Linked DNA regions of Homo sapiens. The protein of the gene in region 2 interacts with the protein of the main gene of each other region in a pairwise test. Each region holds a gene or a part of one and is shown on either strand. Other genes may lie near its edges.

The links.
Region 1: the proteins of ZNF275 (region 2) and RBM10 interact in binary tests that used the Homo sapiens proteins (3 or more experiments, as listed by UniProt).

Annotation. Positions count from the first base shown.
Region 1 is NC_000023.11:47,151,407-47,155,224, reverse strand, and holds part of RBM10 (RNA-binding protein 10), read right to left. Parts: intron 1-3,818. UniProt on the Homo sapiens protein: Binds to ssRNA containing the consensus sequence 5'-AGGUAA-3'. May be involved in post-transcriptional processing, most probably in mRNA splicing. Binds to RNA homopolymers, with a preference for poly(G) and poly(U) and little for poly(A).
Region 2 is NC_000023.11:153,332,698-153,337,169, forward strand, and holds the start of ZNF275 (zinc finger protein 275), read left to right. Parts: upstream 1-1,455; 5' UTR 1,456-1,588; intron 1,589-2,764; exon of another isoform or gene 2,765-2,840; intron 2,841-3,936; 5' UTR 3,937-3,982; coding exon 3,983-4,013; intron 4,014-4,472. UniProt on the Homo sapiens protein: May be involved in transcriptional regulation.

The DNA.
Region 1 (3,818 bases), about 110 Mb from region 2:
TGCTGTGAACAAAATAAAGTCCCTGTCCCCACGAACTCAGCTTGGAACCCAAACTCTTTTTTTTTTTTTTTTTTTTTTGAGAGGGAGTCTCGCACTGTCCTCCGGGCTGGAGTGCAGTGGCGTGATCTTGGCTCACTGCAACTTCCACCTCCTGGGTTCAAGCGATTGTCCTTCCTCAGCCTCCCGAGTAGCTGGGATTACAGGTGCCTGCCACCACACCCAGCTAATTTTTTGTATTTTTAGTAGAGATGGGGTTTCATCATGTTGGCCAGGCTGGTCCCAAACTCCTGACCTCGTGATTCACCCGCCTCGGCCTCCCAAAGTGCTGGGATTACAGGCGTGAGCCACCACACCTGGCCCCAAATTGTTTCCCTACCGTAAATGCCTAGAGAAGAAATCACTGTCAGTGGTATGAGTAGTTATAAGGTTCTTGATACAATCAATTTGAACTGTAGTCATCAAAATTCAAGAACTGGGCCATCATGGTGGCTCACACCTGTAATCCCAGCACTTTCGGAGGCTGAAGCGAGTGGATCACCTGAGGTACGGAGTTCGAGACCAGTCTGGCAAACATGGTGAAACCCCGTCTCTACTAAAATACAAAAATTAGCCGGGTGTGGTGGCACGGGCCTGTAATCCTTGCTACTCAGGAAGCTGAGGCACAAGAATCCCCTGAGCCTGGAAAGCAGAGGTTGCGGTGAGCCAAGATCGCACCACTGAACTCCAGCCTGGAAGACAGAGTGAGACTATCTCCACAAACAAAAACAAACAAACAAACAAACAAAAAAAAAAGGAAAAAAAATCAAGAACTGAACAGATATGAATAAATTTATAAATTTTCAGATGAAATTATCCTGAACTCTCTTGACATCCAATATCCAAACCAAATAAATTCAGGTATTGAACTCTTGCTATCTAAACTCAGGAAGGGAACATATTTGGATAGAAAGGAATATTTTTAATTGGCCACCAAAGCACTCTGAACAAACACCTTCCAAAGGCATATCCCTTTTATAAAGCATTTCTAGGATGCTGGACTGAATCATCATATATGAGGATCTTCACAAAATGAGTATATTTCTAGAAAATATAAAATGCTAAAATTGGCAGAAGAGATGAAATGGTAATCAAAAACCAGCTCCAGATGCTTTTATTTTATTATTTTTTGAGACAGGGTGTCACTCTGTCACTGAGGCTGGAGTGCAGTGGCATGATCATGGCTTACCACAGTCTCAACCTCCCAGACTCAGGTAATCCTCCTGCCTCAGCCTCCTGAGTAGTTAGAACTATAGGCACCTGCCACCACGCCCAGCTAATTTTTGTATTTTTTGTAGAGACAGAGTTTCGCCATGTTGCCCAGGATCGTCTCGAATTCCTGGGTTCAAGTGATCCAACTGCCTCAGCCCACTGCGCCCAGCCTCCAGATGCTTTTAAAGGTGAGTCCTACCAAGTTTTTCGAGGTACAGATAATTCTTATACAAGTTTCTCCAATAAAGAGAGAATAACAAAGGCTGCCCAATTCATGTAATGAGGCTACCTTGATTCCAATGCCAGATAAATACTGAAAATAAAAATATTGGACTACCTCACTGATAAATACAGGTGTAGATATCCTAGATGATACAATGGCTAATAAAATCTAACAAGGTTTTAAAAATATACATAAATCACTTAAATAACATTTCTGCCAAAAACTCATGAGTAAGCATCAGAAAAATCCAAACTGAGAAACATTCTATAAAACAACTAACTTTAAAACATGCTTTCAATATAATCCATAGGTTCAGGAAAAAAAAAAATGACAAGGTCATAAAAGACAAAGATAGAATAACTGTTTCAGATTAAAGGAGACAAGGAGCTCAATGCAATACATGATCTTGGACTGGATCCTGGATTGGGGAAAACCATTATAAAGGACATTATTGAGAAGAGTGATAACATCTGAATATGGGCTTTATATAGAATAAAAGTACTATATAATTGTTTAATTTCCTGATATTGATAAGTATATTGTGGTTATGGAAGAGAACACCTTTGTTCTTAAGACGTACATGCTGCCAGACTTAAAAGGTCATGTCAGGCTGGATGTGGTGGCTCATGCCTGTAATCCCAGCACTTTGGGAGGCCGAGATGGGCGGATCACCTGAGGTCGGGAGTTTGAAACCAGCCTGATCAACATGGAAAAATCCTGTCTCTACTAAAAATACAAAATTAGCTGGGTGTGGTGACGCATGCCTGTAATCCCAGCTACTTGGGAGACTGAGGCAGGAGAATCGCTTGAATGCAGGAGGAAGAGGTTGCAGTGGGCCGAGATTGCACCATTGCACTCCAGCCTGGGCAACAAGAGTGAAACTCTGACTCAAAAAGAAAAGTCATGGCTGCCACCAACTCAAACGATTAAAAAAAACGTGTGTGTGTGTGTGTGTGTGTGTGTGTGTGTGTGTGTGTGTCTATGTAAAGATATAGAGCTATAGGGTGGGCCAGGCGCGGTAGCTCACGCCTGTAATTCCAGCACTTTGGGAAGCTGAGGCAGGTGGATCACCTGAGGTCAGGAGTTTGAGACCAACCTGACCAACATGGTGAAACCTCGTTTCTAATAAAAATACAAAAATTAGCCAGGCGTACTGGCAGGCGCGTGTAATCCCAGCTACTTGGAAGGCTGAGGCAGGAGAATTGCTTGAACACAGGAGGCGGAGGTTGCAGTGAGCCAAGATCACGCCATTGCACTCCAGCCTGGGTGACAGAGTGATTCCGTCTCAAAAAAAAAAAAAAAAAAAAAAAAAGATATAGAGTGATAGAGCAAATGTGGCAAAATACTTAAAACAAGTAATTCTGAGTAGAGGATATATGGGAATTCATTATACTTTTTCTTGCAACCTTTCTGTAAATTTGAGATATTTTCAAAGTAAGAAGTCATAAACATATACATACATACCATGATCAAGTGGGGTATAGCTCAAGAATGCCAAGGATATCATTTAATGCAATTTACAAAATTTTTATTTATTTTTTTGATATGGAGTCTCACTCTGTTGCCCAGGATGGAGTGCAGTGGCACGATCTCAGCTTATTGCAACCTCCACCTCCCAGGTTCAAGCGATTCTCATGTCTCAGTCTCCCCAGTAGCTGGGATTACAGACATGCTTCACCACGCCTGGCTGATTTTTTTATTTTTAGTAGAAATGAGGTTTCACCATGTTGGCCAGGCTGGTCTTGAACTCCTGGCCTCAAGCGATCCAACCACCTTGGCCTCCCAAGGTGCTGTGATCCACCATGCCAGGCCACAATTTATGAAATTAATGGACAAAGGGAGAAAAAAAGCACAGGATTTTGAAGTTCAATACTTATTTATGGTCAATCTTAGCAAACGAAGATTAGATAATTTTCTTGATTTATTAAAGGATACATTCTAAAAACTTACTGCATGCACCATACTTAATGGAGAAACTTTAGACACATTCCCTTTTATTCCTCTCCCTTCTTCCTACTGTCTCAACTGCCATGTGCTGAGGATGGCTACACAGAAGGGGCTGCCTGTCAGCCCTAGATTAATTGCTCTTCTGCAGACTGCCTTTATGGGAAAGAAAAGTAAACTATCTTGTCTAAGCCATTATCCTTTGGACTTTCTGCCACAACCAGCCAAAGTAAATCTTAATTTGTGTACCCAGTATCACTTATACTATTTAATATGGTACTAAAAGTCCTGGACAATACTATAAATGAAGAAAAATAAATAAGTGACAGGATAGATTTGCATACAATATGACCAACTACTTAGAAAGAACATCAGAATCAACAATGAAGTATTAGAAATAATA
Region 2 (4,472 bases):
CCATAAAAAAAGAATGAAATCATGTCCTTTGCAGCAACATGGATGCAGCTAGAGGCTGTTATCCTAAGTGAATTAATGCAGGAACATAAAACCAAATGCCACACATTCTCATTTATAAGTGGGAGCTAAACATCGGGTACTCGTGCGCATAAAGATGGGAACAACAAACAATGGGAACTACAAGAGGGGTCAGGGAAGGAGGGGTCAAGGGTTTAAAAACTAACTATTGTGTACTATGTTCAGTACTTGGATGACAGGGTCATTCGTACCCCAAACCTCAACATCACACACTATACCCAGGCAACAAACCTGCACATGTACCCCCTAAATCTAAAATGAAAGTTGAAAACATAAAATTTCTCAGGAACTACATGTGTGTGTATATATATATACATACATACACACACACATATATACACACACATTGCACATAATGGGCTAGCTTTCTCTTTTGTCTCTCTCTCTATATATACACACACACATATATATACATATATATATACTGCACATAACATTGGGCAAACTACTTGAACAGACACTTTACAAAGAAAGATATAGAAATGGCCAGTGAGCACATAAAAGCATACTCAACATAATTAGTCATCAGGGAGATGATAATTGAAATAACAATGAGATGCCACTTCCCACCCTTTCAAATGGCTAAAAATAAAGGCTGACAACCTCAAATGTTGATGAGGATGGGAAAGAAAAGGAGCTCGCATACATTTCTGGTGGGAATGTAAATTGCACAACCACTTTGGAATACATTCTGGCAGTTTCTTATAAAACATAAAACTATCCTGTGATGTGGCAATTCATCTCTTAGGTATTTGCCCAAGAAAAATGAAAGCATATGTCCACACAAAGATGTGTACATGAATATTCATAGTAGCTTTATTTATAATCGCCCAAACTGGAAACAGCCCAGATCATAACCTGGTGAATGAACAAACCAACTCTGATATATCCAAACAATAGCATACTACTCAGCGATAGCACATTCAACAACATAGATAAATCTTGAAAACATCACGTTGAATGAAAGAATCCAGACACACAATAGTACATACGATCTGATTCCATTCATACAGAATACTGGCTTTCCAGTCTTCGCCCTCAGTTCCCGACCCTTCACTCCCCCCACCACCATCTTGAAGATGCCCAAGGGGGAGAGGTCCCTTCCATTCCTTCGTTCCTTCCTTCGTCTGCTGGTCGATTTGTTCGCTCGTTCATTCATTCATTCGCACGCTCATTCCACTCCTCCCCACCTCCACCCAAGCGTCCAGCCCGCGCGCGCCGCTCCCCCGCAGGCTGATCAGACTTGCCTGCCCAGTCCGCCCCCGCCCAAACCCCGCCCCCTTCCCGCCACGCCCCCTTCCCGGGCCAATCGGGGACGAGACTGGGGCCGGGGCGGGGCCTCGCTCCCTCAGAACCCCCGGCGGCGCTCACGGCTCCGGAAACGCGCCGCGGGGCTGTTAGCTCGGCTGGGCACGGGCGGCTCCGTGGCGCTTCCTGCCACGCCAGGCCTGCCTGGGCCGCGCCAGCGCCGCTCCACCGAGGGCCGCGCGTCGGCCGCCGCCGGGCCTGGGTGAGTGTGCGGGCCGCGGGAGGATGTGCGGGGGGCGCTGGAGGGGCCGCAGGGCGGAGGTGATCGTGGGGGCGGCAGGAGGACGTGTGGACCTGAGTGAGCGTGCAGGGCCGCGAGAGGATGTGCAGGGGGTGCAGGACTGTGTGCGGGGCTGGAGCGAGTGTGCGGGCCGCAGAAGAGTGCACGGTGGAGGGAGGGGGCGTCTCTGGGCAGTTGGAGAGCTGCTCGGCCTTGGGCGGGCCAGAGCAGGGAACGGGTCCCGGATGACGAGTACGAAGAGGCCCGAAGGCCTTCCCGAGGCGGGCGGGGGGCGGCGATCCCGGGTGGGAATCGCTAAAGTGTAGAGGCCTGCTCTGCTCTTTGGGGGACGCTAGGAGATGGGAACCGCTCAGGGGCGGAGAGAAAGGACCCCTGCCCCTAGCTCCTAGGAGCCCGATCTGGAGGGGGCATTGTAGGGGTGGGGGTTAAAGGACTTTTCCCTGGTCTAGGGGAGGGACTGAGCCGCAGTCTGGGAGCTGGGAGGGTGGGCCAGGTGGGAACAGTTCCCGCTGGGGAGTCCCTCCTTTCCTTTTGAGTGGGTGGGAGTGGGGGGGGGCGGTTAAGCCTCAGCTTGGTGGGGAGAATGGGGGCCGGTAGGTAGCCTAGAGAGAGAGCTGTGGAGAGGCAGGGGAAAGGGGGCGGTGAGCCGAGCTCAAGGCCCTCTGTCTGAACCAGTCTTTTTCTGTCGCCCTACTGGGGGCCGCCATCTCCCACTTCAGTGCCCCCGCCCCCTTAAACTCCTTTGCTGGCTCCTCCAGTCTATATTTGGGTGATTAATTATATATCTTTTCCACACACACCCCCCACTCGCCTGCCGCCCAAAGTCCATGGTCCCTTTCAAACAACCCCCTGCCCCCATTCCTGGCCCACTTCCCAGAGGTCCCACCCTGCCACCTTGTTCCAACTGAAGCCCTCCAGCCAGCCTTGACCTAGCTGGGCATGCGGCCCCCTCCAGTCTCCTTAGTCAATGAAACATTTCCTCTTCAACCTCAGCCCGACATTTTTCCTTTACAAGAGAATTTCAGATGGGATTGCTGGAACAGCACCTCCCCTAGGTACTAATGCTGCCTCAGCCCCTCCCCACCCTCACCTTCCCCCAACCCTGCAACATTGGACCTTCAAGTAGAAGCCACTTGCACAGTATCTGGCCCAGTTCAGTACATCCCCACAAAATGTTACTAGGGGGATGTACTGAACTGGGTCAGACACTGAGTTTTATATATAGAACCCTATTGAGCAGTAATTTGCAGCCTTCTGTCTGTGAGGGACCCCTTGGAAATCTACCAGAACTTGTGAATTCTCTTCTAACCATCAGCACAGACTCAGAGATAGTGGGCTCCCATTTCAGCAGGTTCCTGGGCAGGAATCCTGTCAGTAACAGAGATTCTGAGAGTTGGAGAATCTGGGAACCTCCAGATTCTAGACAGGCCCAGTGTTAAGGAGGTGCAGCTCTGCATCATAATCTCCTGGGGTGCTTGTTGAAAAATGCAGACTCCTTGGTCTCTCCCAAACCTGCGAAACTCCCACATGAGTTCTTAGTGAACTCCACACCAACTTTCTCACCCAGTGATCCAGCCCTTACCCAAACCTGCCTGGGCTCCTTGGATGGCCCTGGGCTCTTTGCAATTTGCATAGCATCCCACCCCACCCCCAATTTCGACCTTTGTATCCAGGCGATGTTACCTAAAGGAAGCTATACTTAAAATTTATTTCGATTTTTAGTAAGATGCCATGAATCTTCTTGGAGAAATGGGAACACAAAGCTTTCCTCAATTAAGTACAACAAACACTACAAAATCCCCTTCTGGTCTACCTTCTGGCTTTTTATAGAAAGGAAATAAGATAGAAACCCAAACAGAAAGAGACAGGTGCCCAGGCAAAGTGAGAGGAAACAGATGCCTTCCCACCCACACATACAGAAAAAGGCACACACAGACACAAATACCCCAAGAGAGACAGACTTTCCTGGTGAGACACCCTCTCTTTAGGCCCTTCAGGATTCTGCTACTTCGAGTAGCAGCCTGTTTGCTGCTTTGGGACGGGACGGGATGGGCCCACGTGGGGCCTTCACTTCCGCCTCCTGGCCTGTCAGGTGGAAAGAACATGAAGGCCAGGCTCAGCGTGGCCCAGGGCTTGGCTCAAGGGTTGCATCCTGGCCTGGCTAGGGTGGATCCAGATCGTGGCAGTATATATTCAGTTGAACCCTGTATCTGGCCCAGTTCAGTACATCCCCCAAAATGTGGGGGACATGTTCCTGGGAGGTGCACACAGGTCTGCTTCTGTTCACCTGAATTATTGCAATCCAACAGATGGGGCCTTACCTGCCAGGCTGATCCCTTGGAGTAGTTCTGAGGCATGATGAGTCATCCGTGTGTGTCTCTTTTGGGTAAGTCTGGGTGTTTATGCATGGTGTCTGCTGGCTTTGACGCTGGGCATGCTATCAGAAGACCCTATAGGTGGGGTTACAACATGGTGAGGAGTATCGTTTTGGTTCCGGAAGCACTTATATTTTCATCTGTGCCACTGTTGCTGAACTGTCTTTGCCCAGAGACAGTTCTCTCAATCCAAGCAATACAACTCACAGGAGAAAAGATATTCAGGAAAGAGAATCTGGAGTCTAATCTCCCTTTTGGATGGGAGAGGGAGCTGAAGGCATCCATCTGAATTGGATCTTTTGTGAGTGGAAACCTTTGAAGACACCCGTTGCTCTGGCCTAGAACTGAGCAGAACACAAGCCACCTGTTGTCTTCTGGGTAAACTCAAGCTTTAGGGCCTGAGGACATTCTGCTCCAGGTCTTTATTTAGATGCTTCAGAGAGTCCAGGTGTTTCTGGCACCCCTTGGAA